Regions from separate parts of the Homo sapiens genome. Here region 1 is linked to region 2. The links come from fine-mapping of genetic effects on gene expression. Tissue or cell type: testis. Region 2 holds a variant in brackets; the other region holds the start of a gene. All regions are shown on one strand. Distances are between the middles of the regions.

Region 1 (8,000 bases), 71 kb before region 2:
TAGAGAAATGGAGGCTGATGAAGGGCCTTGAGCCTGCAGATCCAGTCCTGCCTGGAAATGACACTGGGTCCCCTTCACACCTGACTGCCCAGACCTCAGAGATGGAAGCCTGTCCCCTTGGCCTCACACATGCTGACCCACCTGTGCAGCCCATCTTGCAAAGGTAAAGCCCTAACAGGCCTTGGTCTGATGCTTCTCAACCAAGAAACCAAACGGCAGCTGCCACAGCATCATGAACTCCCACTGTGCAAGTGGGGAAACTGAGGCCCGGAAAGGGCAGGGCTTGCCCAGATCTGTACGCAGCCAATCAGAGGCAGAGACAAGCTAGACCCCAGGCCTCCTGCATCCTGAGGTAGGGCTCCTTCTACCTCTATCTTAGAGCTGAGGAAACTGAGGCTCAGAGAAGCTAAAGCGATTGACCTGCAGAACTCAGGCTGGGCCTTGCAGTCCCAGTCTGGCGCTCCTTCCACCCTACTCTGCAGCGCCATGGCCCTCTAGAGCCTCCTGGCCCCACCTCCGTGGGAGTGGCAGGTGTGGGACTGCCCAGGGAAGGGGGCGGCCTTTATGGATGTTCCCAACCGGCCTGGGCCTTTCCTCTCACCCCACCGCTTCCGTGGTTCACAGGAGAGTGGGACTCCCCTCAAACCCTCCCCCTACCCAGGAAAGCCAAGAAGGGGGTGGACAGCCCAGACCTGGGACCCCGAATACTTGAGGGGCTGGGAGTCTTCTGGTGCCTGGCCTGGGTGGAGGTAAGGTAGGGAAGGATCCCCAGGTTATTTCTGGGCAGGTGCCTCTATGGGCAGCCAGGTTCTGATCCCCTCTCCCCAGCCCCCATCCCACCAGCTCAGCCTGCGTCCCAGGCACCCACCAGGTGAGCATTCCAGGCCACTGGGCCATGTTGGCTTTCAGTTCCTGTGCCAAGTGCCCCTTTCATCTCCAGCTCACTCTCCAAAGCCCAGGCCAGCGGAGGCTCCTGGGTGAGTCCCCGGCTTTCCAGCCTCACTGAACACTTCCCTGCTCCCAGCTGTGCTGGGGCTCCCTGTGCCCAACAGTCCACAGAGCTAGGCAGCTTAACTCAAATCCTGCCTCTACTACCTCTGAGCTGTGACACCCTGCTAGGTAGAGTCCCCCATCTCTGTGTGCCCCAGTCTCTGTTTCCTCTTCTGTGCAACGGGGGTAATAGCAGCACCCACCTCACAGGGTGGTTGGGATATTTAAATGGAACAATATACATAAGGCACTTAGAACGGCACCTAGCACAAAGTGAGGCCATGTGTGTGTAGACATATATGTACATATACATAGATATATGCACGTGGCCTACACACGTGTATCTATATATACACATGCATACACAGATCGTTGTTATTCTTAAACTCCACCCCTTTTCCCACCTCCCCCTCTATCTTAAACTCTAGCAAGACTTTAATCCCCTATTGCTAGACTATCAGTTTCTCATAGGAGTGCAGTATGATCTAACTTACATGACCCAAGCTCTCGGAGCAGCGTCTGGGGCACTTAGGAGTAGGCTCTTGTGGTGCCTGGTTTCTCCAGGTCTCCCCGCATGCGCTGTTCGGCCTCCAGGCTTCTGCTCGTGCTGTGCCTCCCGCCTAGGACGCCTGCTTTGCACTCCGTCTCTGACCATCCAAATCCTCCCTGTCCTTCCAATCCTGGCCTATGCATCTCCCTTAGATAGAACTGATCACTCCTCCTCTGGGCTGCCATGCTCCCTCTGCTAGGACACAGACCATAGTCCACTTTGTATTTCTATATGTCCATCTCCCCCAAGAGCCTGGGGGCTTATTTAAGGCACACAATGAGTTGTACCCATTTCTGTGGCAGCCTGACTTTGCAGTGGGGACAGAGGACATGGACGTCAGGTTTAGCCAGCCGTCCATCCCACCACAGGCCAGCGTGGGGGCTTGCGTGCATCATGCCCTTTGCAGGGTCTCGGTGTTCCCACTGTGGAGCAGGGATGATGGCAGTGACCCCACAGGACTCTTATGGGCGGCAAATGACACCCAAGCCCACTGCAAGGCCTCTGACGCTCCTTCAGCCAATCCTCTCCTTCCCTGGACCTTAGTATCCTTATCTGTAAAATGGTGGCGGTGGATGAGAGAGCTTGGACTCGCTGATCGGAGGTCCCTGCCAGCTGGAACAGTGCTGGGTACCCCATTGCAAAAGGAAGGTGGCTGGTTTCTCACAGAACTCCTCAGGGACAGCTGGGAAAAGCTAGTGCCCAGGGCTGGGAGATTGCTGAGACCAGGCTTCTTGTAAACAAGAAAGGCAGGAAGACGGGGTTCCCTCCTCGAATCGTCAATTAATCAATAACTTGGCCTGAGAAGGGGCAGGGCCAGTGACCTCCAGACTGTTTGCTGGCGGCGCAGCCACTATCACCCTGTCTTCCAACTAATTCACAAACCCTTTGCAGCGCCCTCCCCAGCCCCCACAACCTGCCCCCTGCTGTCTTATCTGCAGGCTCCCTGCCCTGGCCCCAGATTCCAGACCCTTGTCCTGTCCTGGACTTTCCCTCTCAGGGAGCCCCTCTGCCCACAGCGTCCTCTCCATTGCCCGAACCAGCCAACTCCCAGCAGCGCTTCAGTCACCAGAGGCACAGCCTCGGAAAAGCTTCCCGGTGTCTCACATCTGTGTCCCCACCAGGTGGGCTTCCTTCCTCTAGGCCTCCAGATTCCCGCTCTGGTTTCTCCTCGGGCACTTGGACACTTGTGGAGTTATTTACAGCCTGGGCTTATCTCTCTCAACTTAGAGCGCAGCTCCTCCGGGAAGGGGCTGGTGTTTACTCCTCTCTTCACCACCCCCAGCCCCCTGAGCAGGCACTCCCTTCAGCTCGGCACCAAGCCTCTCTCTCCCTCCTACCCCTGCGTGAATAATTTCTATCTAAAGGAATGCCCTGCACATGTGCACAGTGGCATCTGACAGCTTCTGAGGTCCTTTCAGGAGCCTCTTCTCATCTGATTTGAGGGAGGTGGGGAGTCTCACCCTCCCGTGACAGAGGAGGACAAGGAGGCCCCAAGAAGTAGAGTGACACTTTCCCAAGGTCGCCCAGGTGGAGGGGTCAGGAGTGTCTCAGCGGAACTCCCGCTAGGGTCAAGGAGACTGACGGACAAGGACCGCTCCTGGGCTGGCCGCTCTGGATTGCGCCCCCTGAACAGAATGTCTTTTTCCATCTGCCCCTGCGGAGGTGGCCAGAAACTCCGTGGCCCTTGCGCCACCGTCAGCTGCACAGGACCAGGCGCTTCCATTGTGGTCCACGCCCGTCTCACTCCCTTTTCGCAAGCCTGCGGGAGGCAGGGACATTTTACAGAGGAGGAAACAGAGGCTGAGGGATGACTTGCCCACGACCGCCAAGCCAGCTTAGGCTCCCGGGTCTTGGTGCGCTCGCCCCATCCAGGGGACCCCAAAACGCCCTCCGCCGCCCCAGTCCCTGGCCTGTGCGCGTGGACGCGGGGTCCCTACTCACAGCCACTTGATGCCATAGCACACGCCGGTCTGGAGCGCCAGGGCGAAGAGCAGCGCCTCGCAGACCTGCGGCCGCGCCCTCATCGTCGCGCGGCGGGCGCGCCCGGGGTCACACCCAGGAGGAGCCGCGCCGAAGTCCTCCGCCTGCACGGCCGCCGCTGGTCCTGCACGCCGCCTGCAGCCGGGGAGAGCGGAGGCGGCGGGTTAAGGCGGCGCGCGGGCGGGGGAGGCGTTTTATTCAAATTACAAAGGAGGGGTCGGGGCCCGGGGAGGCCGAGCGCGGCGGGCGTCCCCTCCCGCTCCGCCCGGCCGGGGGACGCGTCCCGCGCCTGGCTCGAATTAGGCGCGGCCGAAGGCGTGTCTCCCAGCGTGGCCCCGGGCCCCAACGCGCCTTCGAGCCCCTCTGGCCGGGGCAGCCGGAAGGAGGGACAGGAGGCGGCAGAACCGGAGACCCAGGAGAGACCGGGCAGACACAGCGAGAGGGAGAAGGACGCTCAGAGGACAAGGCTGAGAGCCACGGAGACAGAGGGGGAAACCCGGACAGACGCAACCTGGGACGGAAAGGAGAGGAATGAGGAATCAGGAGTCCAGGCGAGGCAGCAGAGTCGAGGACCCGGAGCTGGGGCTTATCCCTGCAATATTGAGCATTAGTTAATAGGGCCTCGGCAATTCTCCTTCCCAAACGTGTTTCAGTTTACCTCCTCAGTAAGCTGGGGCAATTCGGGCACAATTCCGCTTTTATAAAGAACGTTCCCTGGCCGGGCAGGGTGGCTCACGCCTGTAATCCCAGCACTTTGGGAGGTCGAGGCGGGCGGGTCACCTGAGGTCAGGAGCTCGAGACCAGCCTGCCCAACATGGCAAAACCCCGTCTCTACTACGAATACAAAAAATTAGCCGGGCGTGGTGGCGGGCGCCTGTAATCCCAGCTACTCGGGAGGCTGAGGCAGGAGAACCGCTTGAACCCGGGAGGCGGAGGTTGCAGCGAGCGGAGATTGCGCCACTGCACTCTAGCCTGGGCGACAAGAGCGAAACTCCGTCTCAAACAAACAGACAAACAAAAAAAGTTCCCTAACACGATCGCATCTGCTCCTCCCAGCACCCCGTGAGATAGGCACTATCGCTGCCTCATCTCACAGATGAGGAAACTGAGGCACAGAGGTGGGGTTCAGCTAGGGAGCGGCAAGCCGGGTGTCCGGCGAAATCAGGAAATGGGGCTTGCTCGGGGCCCTGCTTTCTCGGTGTGGGAAGGGGAGGATGGGAAACGGGATGGTAGGGCTCTTTGTACAGTGAGGATTCCGAGTCTCCAAGTCCGTCTTTAGCCGCTCCACTTTGGAGGGTGGGAGTGGAAGCATGCGGGCTGGGACTGGGCAGCCCCGCCTTAGCGAAGCGGGGAAGCTCGCGGGGCTGGCGCGGTGTTGCCTCTGGCCTCCAGGCGGCGCCCTCGGGCCGCGGAGGAGAGGCTGCCCCGCCCGCCCGCAGCCCGCGGAGCAGCTATCTCCGCTTTTTTTCTCCTTCACTTCATTCTCACCTCATTAACTCCCTTCCCAGCTTCTCCCAAATTTACCAACACCTGGCGTTCGCCCGGAGTCAGACACAGCCCCAGCCCCTCTCCCCTCGGGAGGAGCAGAGACAAAGGGATTCCTTTCTAAGGGTTTGGGGAGTTGGAAAAGGAGGCGCCCACGGTAGTGGGGGCGCTGGAGCAGAAAAGGGACGTTCTTATCTGGCTCTGTGAGCTTGGGCAAGCCCTCAGCCACCCCAGCCTCGGTGTCCCCTTCCATAAGAACGAGGAATGGGGCTTCGCCGTGCGTCCCCCGAGGACCCCGTCTCCCTGCAGCCTGCGGGGCTCAGCGCCCCTCTGCTATTTGCACCGCGACGCCACCTGCGTGGCGCGTTCCTGCGCGTGGGTAGTCAGCACGCAGAGATGGGAAGCCCCACTGTTTTCTGGAGCCTGTCGGCAAAACCCACAGGAAGGCGAGGAGAAGCCTGGATCGTACAGTTTTTTTCCTCCGCAGAGCCCCGCAGCTAGCGCCCAGCACAGGGGCGCCTGCGACAAACATGCCGTCAAGGCTGGGGGTCTCAGAGGGGTTCTCGGTGTAACCCAGTCCCGTCCTCCCACCCAGCCTGTATCCAAATCCTTTGTCTTCCTGGTCCTGCAAGTTTCTTGCACTTCTCAGAACGAGAAAAATATCCGCTGGATATGGAGGGGGGAATCAAAACTCCAGTCACCGTCTTCCCCTCTCCCAAAGTGCGCCGCCCCCCGAAGGCACCCGGCATTCCTGGGTGGGGAGGGGGCGGGGGCTGCAAGAGGACGGAGGCGCGCGGACTCACAGCGGGGGATCTGTGTCCAGCCTGGTCTCCCAGGGAGAGGAGGAGCCCCCTAGGTCGCACAGCGGACGGGGACCCAGGCCTCCAGCCCCGCCCAGCTCTTTCGGTGCAGCCCCGGCTGTCCCAAGGCTCTCCCTCCGCCGCCCAAGCTCGTCGCGCGGGGAGGCAGCGCCTGGCCCGAGCCTCTGGGTCCTGACGGACTGTTCCTGTCCCTTGTACGAGCGCCCGGGACAGCCGCGCAGGCCACGGGGTCACCTTCCGCCTGAGCTCGCGGGTCAGGGTGCACGCGCCTCCTGAAGCCCCCAGCCCGCCAGGGGGCGCTAAGCCGGGGCTCGAGGAGGGGGGAATCGCGGCTGCCTCCTGCGTCGCGGGCTGGGGTCAAGTCCTCTTCCTGGGCCCCCGCTTCTCCGTCTGGGGATGGGACGACGTGTCGAGGGAGTGCCCCCTGTGTCCTGGTCGTTCTATAGGACACTTGCCGTGGGCCGCCCTGACCTGCCCGGCCCCTTGCTTGGGGCCGGGCGCGTAGTGGGCCGCGCCAGGCGTAGCACCTTTGGAGAGCGAGCGGTCACCTCCTCGAAGTTGGTCCGAGCTACCCTGCCTGCAGCGGGCCCGGGAGGCGGCCGCCTGGGGCTGTGCACAGGGAGAACACCACGAGCGCAGCGCCGCAGCCCAGCGCCGCCAACAGATGGTCATAGGCCCGGTCTGTGGAGGACTCTGGAAAGCCGGCCGCTGGGACCAGGCCACGCCGGCCCGGCGAGGACTTGCGGGGTCCCCCCTACCCCGACGCCCCACGGGCACCGTGCACCGGGGCCGATTGTCCGCGCGGCGCGCAAGGTCGGCACGGGCGGGTCCCGAAGCCTCCCGCCACGCAGCTCACGGAGCTGACCCCGCCAACCAGGGACGCCGAGCGACGGCTTCAAGGTTACCTGCGGGGCGGGGCGAGGCCGGGCCTGCCACCCGGCTTTGACCCCAGCCGTGAGGCTTTCGAGAGACGTCTGCTTGGCTGCGCACGCGGCGCCGGGTCACCCGGGAGACGGGTTGTTTTGGAAGTGGGAAGGGTGGGTGGGAGCACTCGAGATCCCTCCTGCTAACCCCCTGGAGCCGGACCCTGCACGCCCAGGGCCTTGAGGGACACCGAGGCACTTCAGCCCCGGGGGTGGGAGGCGTGGAGCTCGTGCGCGAGCTCAGCCAGATGTTCCGGGCGGTTGCAGATGTGCCTCGGGGCCGGGGACAGGACTTTCCTCCTCCCTAGCCCCCAGCCTGGAGCTCAGGTCAGTAAACAAACTCGGTTCTCCCCCTCCCCCCGCCGCCCCTGGGACCCGTTCTCAAAGCCAGGCTTCTGCCCCCATCCCCAATTTACTAGGCGCTGCCGCATTTCTTTGCCTTTTGCCACCCTTTCCCCCCGCCCACCACACACACCCTCTGTCGCGGGATCCAAGTCCCCCACCCCCGGGGGTGGCTCGGGCATGACCTCATCCGCCGAACGACTGGGAAGGAGGGGGTCGCCTGGGGTGCGGGGGCAGAAGAGGGGGGCCGGGCCGGGAAAGTTCGAGGAGGGCCGCAGGAACTGCACAACCCACCACCGTCCCGCGTGCCCCTAAACCCCGCGTCCCCAGGCTCCCGAGGCTTCGCTCCGCAAAGGGGAACTCTTCGGAGTGCTGCGGGGGAAAGGTATGGAGGAGCGCTTGGTTTGCTTACCCGGGAGTGGGTGCCCAAGGGGGTCGTGGCGGGTGCGAGAAGCGTCGTCCCCCTCGGACTCGGGCGCCCCCAGCCCTGGCGGGTCCCCGCTGAGCGGCTGCCCGCTGCCCGCGACCACTGCTCACCTCCCGGGGCGCTCGCCAGGCGCGCCCTGCGTGCCCGGGTGCCCCGGCCTGCCCAGGGAGCGGCGAGTGCGGTTTCCAGCGGGCCCGTGCGCACTCCGGCTGGGCGAGCGGCGAAGGCGCCCTCTTCGTGAAGCGGCGCGAGAAGGACGCCGGGGATCCTGGCAAGCTGCGGCCGGCTCAGGACCCGCGCGGAGTCAGGCGCGGACTCCGGCTGCTCTCTGCTGCGCTCAGCTCCCGTGGCCTGTGCTCGCCGCTCGCCCGAGCTCTCCTCCTCGCCTGGCGCGATCTCCGGCGCGAGCCTCCCAAACTGCTTTATAAGGCGGGCGGCCGCTTTGATCCGCCCACGTCAGCGCGTCGCAACCCCACCGGGTG
Region 2 (8,256 bases):
GGGCATGGTGGCTCACGCCTGTAATCGCAGCACTTTGGGAGGCTGAGGCAGGCAGATCACTTGAGGTCAGGAGTTTGAAACCAGCCTGGCCAACATGATGAAACCCCATCTCTACTAAAAATACAAAAAAAAAAAAAAAAAAAAAAAGAAGCTGGGCATGGTGGCACCCACCTATAATCCTAGCTACTTGGGAGTCTGAGGCAGGAGAACTGCTTGAACCCAGGAGGCGGAGGTTTCAGTGAGCTGAGATTGTGCTACTGCACTCCAGCCTGGGTGACAGAGCAAGACTCTGTCTCAAAAAATAAAATAAACAAAAAATAAACGACAGAGTGCTAAAGCATATGATTTATAATCAACAATCTCATTGCCACATAAAGTGACAAAAATTGGCTTAGTCAAAAAAACAAAGAAGGAAAAGAAAAATATTAAGTCATCTAACTGCAAAGTCCAAGGGCATGAGAGTTTCAGGCATGGCTTTATCTAGGGGCTCAAATTCTGCCCCCAGGACCTGCTCGCTCCATCTCTCGGTTCTCCTGGTTCCCATGTTGGCTTCATTTTTAGGCTCCAAGTGGTGAAAAGATAACTATAAAATTAACTTCCAGGTTCAGGTCCAGCCAAAAAAAATTTTGTTAAGAGTCCTCCTTTGTCAGTAGACCCAGCAAGCATTCAAATATGTAACCCATTGCTTCTAACGGGTCGTGAGTCCATCTGTGAACAAGTCCTTGTGGCCAGGAATATGTGAAGCTCTGACTGACGGGGCCTATGTCTCACGGCCAGCTCTGGAGCTCTGGAGTTGGGGGTGGGGACAACACTATCTGAAATATAGGAGCCAATGAGTAGGGAAGAGTGGATGAGAGGAATAATTACCTTAGAGCAAAAGCAGAGTCCTGCCACCAGAATAAAAGGGGAAAGGATGTTGAGGACAAGATAATAACTGCCCACACAGTCCACCCCTTTGAGGGCTGACATTTATGCATGCCTTTACTTGCACACAAAATAATACCTTCCCACTTCCTCCCCTCTCTCAAATAGAAGACAAATCAGAGACTCATAATACTGAGTTCAGAATCTCTGGGTGACTTATATTATTTTCCTTCAGAGTTAGATGTATTCTTGAGGTCTTGCAATCTGTGGCTGAAAGATTATCCCTCCAACAGACCATGACTCCATAATGGCAGAGAGAATTGGGTAACTGCAATAACAATTCCTACTGAAAAGGGAGAAGAAAGGAAAGCAGCACACGGCGCTACCAGTCCACAGCATTCACCAGTTCCTGATGAACAGGGACAGCAAAGTCTTCCTGTCCTGGGTGGAGAAATGAGTTACTTGAATGGAGTGGTAGGCAGAATATGCTCCCCACCCGAAAGATGTCCACAGCCTGATCCCTGGAGCCTGTGCCTATGTTATGTTAAATGGCAAAGGGGAATTAAGATCACAGACGGAAATCGGGTGCTAGTCTGCTGACCTTAAAATCAGGAGATAATGCTGGATTACCTGGTGTGCCACTGTAAGCACAGCGTCCTTGAAAGTGAAAGAGGAGGCAGCAGAAGAGTCTGTGTCTGAGTGATGGGAGGCAGGAAAGACTCAATCAGCCATCGCTGACTTTGAGGAGGGAAGGGGGCCACTAGCCAAGGAGTGCGGGCAGCCTCTAGAAGCTGGGAAAGGCAAGAGAACAGGATCTCCCCAGAGCCTCTGTAAAGGAGCGCAGTTCTGACACTCTGATGCTAGCCCAATAAAGTACATTTTGGACTTCTGTCCTATGGAATTGTAGGGTAATACATTTGTGTTAAGTCCTTGAGTTTGTGGGAATTTGTTACAGTGACCATAGTGAGACAGCGACACAGCAAATCCCACTACCACGATACTCCTTTTGTTCCCACTGTTATGCCTCCGGCTGGGAATGGAACAGACACTGCCACTTTTGGTCCCCCTAACAATCTTGGGAGAAGGTGTAATCATCCTTAGGTTACGGATGAGAAAACAGAGGCTCAGGTAACAGACAACTGCTAAAGGCAACCAGTTAGTGGAAGAGGGAGCCAACAGGCAAACCCTCGCCTGTCTGACTTGGAGCCGGGCTGGGGTCCTCATATAACTTCCTCGCCCAGTGGTCCTCTTATCTCTGCTGAAACCCTCCAGCCACAGAGGCTCACACCTTGCAAAGCCCCAGGCCTCCCTGCTCCCTCCTGGCCTCATGCCTTGCATGACCTGATGGATGGTGGCTAGAATAGCCAGTGGAGGGCGGCCAGAATGTCAGACTCTGGCCAGTCAGCGGGCAATGAATCCAGGACACAGTTGCCTTGTTGGTGGGCCCAGGCTGAGCATCCCTACTCACGGGGAGCAGGTTCTGTTTATCAAAATCTAGACTTCTGCCCTCCTCTCCTGCCTCCAGCCTCCACGCTCCCCTTGGCTGAACTGGGTTTTGGAATGCATTGCTTTGTACTAAATGGAGAAAATGTGGAACCTTGTCTTTCAAGATTTATTCTTCTCTGTGCTGTCACCTCCACTCCTGTCTAATCCTGGAATGTCCCCGGGGTGGGTGAGGTGAGGGAGGGCAGCTATGGCTCCTCCGATTTCTTCCTGACAAATGTAAAATGGGCCAGGGGGGCCACAGGGGAGGTAAATCGATCCCAAAAAGTGCCTTGTGTGCAATTTGGGGATGAGAGAAAGTTCATGTAGAGATAGGGCTCCGAGGATGCACCCCCAGGGGCTGGCCTGGCCAGCTGATGACCAAAAACAACTGCCTCCCTCCTCCCCAACACACGCAACCCACACACAGGCCCAGGCTTACACCCCCCAACTGAGTGGGAACAGTCAAGATCCCAGAGGCCAGACCACAAAACCTAAACACAGACTCCAGAGGGCAGATGAGACCCAGGGGAACGTCTCCTCTGACCTCTTCATTGGCCTAGAGAAGGGAGGTGCCTTGCCTAAGGTCACATGGCAAAGCCGGGACTACCGCCTCATCAAGCCTCAGTTTCCCAGGGGTAAAATGCAGGCCTGATGAGAAGCTCAAGTGAGGCAGAAATTGCTAAGTGAATGTGACAGGGAAGTAATTACAGCCCAGCAAGGATTGGGAGCAGTTTTCTTTCTTAATGCTGTGAAACTGAGGCTCGGAGAGGAACTTTTTCAAGATCACACAGCTGGCAAGTGGCAAAGCTGAACTTCGGACTGGCTCTGTCTGACTTCAGAGCCCACGGGTGCTACCTTTCACCACATTGTCATGTCACATGTCAGCATCACAGTGACCCTTTCTATACCTGAAATCTCTTCCAATTTCCTGAACCCAAGACCCAAGGGAGTGACTGGGAGGCCTGGGAGGCTCTGGGGAGATGTGTGAGTCTGAACAAAGGTCAGACCCCGGCTTGACTGCAGTCCCCAACCCCCCAGTTGGTCCTGTGTGCCAGGTATACCCTGAAGGCCTGCAGACAGCCCTGGCAGGGGGTCTCTGGGTAGGCAGGGGGGACATCACACACTGTGGGCTTGGACCTGTGGGGATGTCCTTCTTGGCCCACCTGGGCATTTCATGTCCCTGCATCTGTCCGGGGCTTGAGGGGCTCCTTCGGGTGCAGGCCCTGAACAGGGTCCTCAGGTGCTGGGCACACACAAGGGGTCACTCAAGCACTCAGCAAATGCCTGGCAGGCCCTGTCCTGGGTTCCGGGTAGAGACCATCAGACCCAGTCCTTTCCCTAGAGCAGTCCCTGAGCAAGTGCAGGAGAGGCGGGAAGAGATAAATGACAGAAGGGGAGCTGGCACCTTCGCACATCCACCAAAGCCACCCCTTCCTGCAAGCACAACGTTGTCTTAAAAAATACACAAATTCCTGTTGACAGTCTCGGGCCAGGTGGCCCCCAGAGTGGTGCAGGGTCAACCAGCACGGCAGCACGGCCCCGTGCACCCCAGGTCTTCAGGCCAAAACCTGAATGAAGGGCTCTTTGACTCCAAAGCTGTGCCTTCCTCACAGCTCCACAGGAGGCCTGGCTGCCTCCACTGCAGCCCACACCCTCTCCTGTGCTCGCTGCTCCCACACCCAGGCGGCTTCCTGTCCAGGCCTTCTTGCCTCTTCTGCATAGGCAGGGGCTAGATGGGAGACCCCGCGGCCCCCGCCTGCCTGGGACGGTCTGGCGTGAGTGTATGCAGAGCTGGCCCTCGAGCCAGGGCAATGGTCCTTGAAGCGCACGTCAATGTGACGTGACCACAGGGGTCACTTGGAAAGGGC[A/G]GGACAAATGGGTCATGGGAGAGAACAGGAGCATAGCAGGAGCCCCTCCCATCCGCACAGTGGTTTGCCCCTTACAAATCCTGTTTCCACACTGTGGCTCCCTGAAAGAGCCACTACAAAAGAATGGGTGAAGCGAGGCAGGCTCAGAGAGCTCAAGTCACTTGTCCAAGGTCACACAGCCACACCACAGCCCTGCTGACCCTGCCTGTCAGCCTGCCCCTCCATCCCAGGCCTCCTTCACCACCCGCAGCCCCTCTCTGGCTCGCATGGGTGGGCTCAGGGAGGCAGGGGCTGGGCTCTGTGGCTGGGCCCCGCCATGTGCATTGAGGCATTGGAGTTGGCAATGACGATGGAGCTGCCAGAGCTGCTGTCTGCCGGGAGGAGGTCACGGTCTGCAGACGCCACGGTCTGTTGGCTTTGCGAGCAGGATGAACTGGGGAGGCCCACCTGGCCCTGGGTAGGTTGGGGTGCTCTCAGCAGAGCCAGGGGAGACGGCAGCTCCGCCAGGGCCCTCTTGTTTCCCTGCTTCCTGCTGGAGTGCGGGGGCAAATAGCCCATCCAAGCCTCCTTTGCAGGGCAAGTGAGTGGGTGATGCACTAGGTGAGGGGTGCACTGCAAGAGACCGGGGGACCTCAGGCCAAGGGCAGCATTACCCAGCCCCCTTGGAAGCCCAGCAATTACCTAAGCATGGGCACTCTGGAGCCACGCTTCTGGGTTCAAATCCCAGACACCTGTGTGTGACTGTGGGCAAGGTCACCTTCACCTCTCTGTCCCAGCTGCCCCATCTGTGTGATTACACTAATACCAATGTTTACCTTATAGGGTTGTTATGATAATACTGACCCTCATAACCAGCAAGTCAGGCAAGGGCCGGGACACAAACGTAGGATCCCTTTCAACAAAGGCACAGCGTATGCATGAGAAAGACTACCCTAGAATTGCTTCAAAAGCCTCTTCCCCTCTCCAGGCCTCAGTCTTTCTGTCTGAAGAGTGGGTGGGTCAGCCTACTAGGTCTCCAAGTCCCTGAGAGGTTAGCCACCCGATGCCCTGTGCCCCCTTGAGCACTGATGGAGGATGGAGAGGCAGCGGGATTAGGCAAGTGACCAGCAGGTCTAGGGCTGAGGACAGTGTGTCCTCTCCACTCTAAGGACACTGGGAGTGGTGGCAGAGGAGGGGATGCCCTTTTGGGGGTGTGGAAGACCATGTCCCCCATCTCACTCGCCCAGCTGACTAAGGCCAGGCCCTTCAGGCAATAGGGACAGGAACAGGATTGGGGCACCCCAAACTGCTCCCCAAATCAACTTCCTTTTGTTAAAAAAATGGCAAAATCTTTCTGGTGTGGATTGACAAAAATTACAGAGCCATTTAGGACCAGACAGAGGTAGATTCCCAACCCGCCTCTTCCACATAATGCTGTGTAACTTGGGTGAGACACTCAACCTCTCTCTGTCTCCAATTCCTCAACTGTAAAATGGGGCTTATAGTCCCTCCTTCACAAGGGGGTGACAGGTGGGAGAGCTCCCTAACCAGAGCGGGTGCTCAGAAGATGCTGGGCCGCTGGGTCCTTCCCACCTTCTTTTGTTGATTCAATCCAACTACCTTGATGCCACCTAAAGTGGACTAGGCCCTGTCGTGGGCTGAGGACCCACATAGACCAGCGTCACTCCTGCTTTCAACCAGCTCAAGGGTCCCAGGAGAAGTCAATGCTGTGACCAAAATGTTGAGATGAGTGAAGACTTCACGCTGGAGGTGGAGGCAACTGGATGTTTTACCATGATTGTTGAAGTCAGATGATTCAGACACGGGGTTTATGACACTATTCTATATGATGTTGTAAGTTTTTCATGAATCACCTAAAATCATCTCAAATTCTATCTTCCATATGTAATAGTCTCAACAACCAGACGTCAGGAAGCATTGGAGGATCTGTCTAACTTTGCCTCCTCTGGACAAGGTCCAGTTTGTCCATGGAGCCCAGAGCAGGCCGTTCTCCAAAGTAGAACATTCCTTCCATGTCCAGCTTTGGAGAAATGTAGGGTCCTGGCCCCCACATTTCTGGTGATGCAGCCAGAGATGATAATGGTGTCCTTTGCAGCCTGCCGCTGTTGGCTCATGGCCACTCTCCCCTCTGCTCCTATCCTGGGTGGCCTGCAGGTGGGCTGAACCACAGGCGGCAAATATTTGCTGACCGAGGGAACGTATTGTCATTGAATACCACTCAGCAGGTGTCTGCATGTGAGGGGGTGAAACAGGGGGCAGTGGCTGGGGAAGGAATTGCCTGAAGCTTCACACCTGTGGGGAGGCCCAGACGGTGGGTGACCCAGCCCCAACCCTGGTCAAGTTCAAAGGCTGAGGGAGAAGACAGGGGCCAGATCGGATGCTTGAACAACAGGGCGCAAGAAGTAAAGATGTCATCAAAGGCTGAGGTGACAGCTCTGCAGTTGCGCTGAGCCAGAAAGAGCTGGGCACGAGAAGACAGGTCAGGTCCCCACAGCAGAGTGAGGGCAGGGCACCAGCAGCTCCTGGGGTAGCCCACATATTCAGAGACACCCCCTCGCAAGGAGAGGGCAGGGTTAAACATGAGTGGCCAGGTGGAGTGTGGCATATGAGCATCAGGACCCCATAGAGACCCAGATCTACCCTCGAATGTGTGCAGCCTCACAGGGCACTCCTGCAGGTGGAGATAGCAGTAACACCCCCTTGAGATGTTCAGGGCGGAGTTGATGATGGGCTGACACTGTGGGTGGGCGCTCGGTGGAGAGGGACTCGCCTGCCTCTAAATCAGGTCCAGCCCTCAGCTCCAGGGCTGCTCCTAGTGAAGCTGGCCCTGCCCACCACTTGTTAAAAAATATTCCGAATAATACTCAGCTGCATCTTGTCAAGCATCTGCTAGGTGTCCGACAGTTGCTAAGTGCTTCATAGGCCCTAACACGGGATCCTCACGAAACTGCATGGAATAAGTGCTACCACTTCCTCCCTTTCCAGGCAAGGACACTAAGGCTGGGGAGCTGAGGAGACTGCCTGAGTTGCGAAGCCAACATTCGACAGACGACTTCGGGGACCACCAGCCAGGCTGCAGGGCCCTGCTAGTCCTGCGGCCATTCCTTCCTGCAGCTTGCCACCTAGGCCACTCGGCTGGCCCAGAACCACCTGCTGCCTTCTGTTGTCCTTAGAACAGGGAACAGTGGGGTTCCTTAGAACAGACTCCTGGGGTGCCCACTGGTCCTGTGGGCAGAGAGAGACTCTGACCACTACCTTAGGTCTCCCATTCCCAGTAGGGAGAGACTTGGTGGCCTCATGCCCTGTGGAGAGATGAGGGCCTGGGTGGGGGGAGTGAGAATTCGGCCATTGTTGGGCAGGGGTCCTCAGAGCAGCCACGAGTCCAGAGCTCAGAGGGGAACTCACCCAGCTTGCCATGCCAGGGGCTGCCGAGGACCCCGGCCTCCTGCTCCCAGCCAGGTTCTGGCCACGTCGTGGAAGAAGGGGAGGCAGGGAGCAGGAACAGCCAGGTCTCCCCCGATGGGGCCAAGGCATTGGAACCTCCCTGCTCACTGTCTGGGGTGGGGGTTGAAGAAACAGCACAAGGGCCTGGAAACTTGGGACCTGTGGAGTGGTCTTGGGCAAGCCCCTTACCCTTTCAGAACCTCCGTTTCTGCCCAGTTGACCCACTGGCTGAAGTGTCCAGCGAGACAATGTGTGCGAGTGTCCTCGGTGGTCCCCTGCCTAAGCTTTCTACCACTGCTCTTGCTACATGACCTCAGGGCACCTGTGTGGCTGTCCTGGCTGGGCTCCAGGCGGGAGCGGAGCTGTGGTCTGCTCAGATAAGGAGCCCCCCGGCTCCCAAACAGGATGGTAGCAGCCCCACTGTGTGATTTTAGGAACCATCATAGCAGTCAGGCAAACCAGGAAAATAATACTAACCCGGCCAGCTCCTTCCTGCTGCCAGAAATCACAGACGGGAAAGTGCAGGGGCCATGGTGGGCGAGGGTGCTGGGGAAGCCAGGTGCCCTTGAGCCCGCCTGCCATGGGACTCTGTGGG

Which allele goes with the higher level. Positions count from the first base shown, and alleles are read on the strand shown. Sizes are in standard deviations (SD) of each study's normalised expression.
As copies of A replace G in region 2, the expression in testis of the gene that starts at base 3,659 in region 1 goes up (moderate effect, 0.65 SD a copy in GTEx).

The links. PIP is the estimated chance that this variant, and not a neighbour inherited with it, causes the effect.
Region 1: it holds the start of WNT11, and the variant in region 2 is fine-mapped to the expression of WNT11 in testis (GTEx, PIP above 0.99). The same link has a PIP of 0.9 or more in adrenal gland.

What each region holds. Positions count from the first base shown.
Region 1 is chr11:76,202,844-76,210,843 of GRCh38, forward strand. WNT11 (Wnt family member 11) reads right to left here and starts at 3,659. Exons shown (of 5, transcript NM_004626.3): 1 at 3,482-3,659. The coding sequence starts at 3,564. It overlaps LOC112268079 (a long non-coding RNA gene), which reads left to right and starts at 6,984. Exons shown (of 2, transcript XR_002957259.1): 1 at 6,984-7,076; 2 at 7,422-8,000. RefSeq lists silencers at 3,572-3,811, 4,792-5,011, 7,664-7,833 and enhancers at 4,116-4,783, 6,118-6,784, 6,403-6,452, 6,785-7,451.
Region 2 is chr11:76,273,406-76,281,661 of GRCh38, forward strand. No RefSeq gene overlaps it. Among named protein-coding and RNA genes, the nearest start is that of TRP-TGG2-1, 42 kb to the left of the region's middle. The variant A/G (reference allele first, on the strand shown) is at 4,218.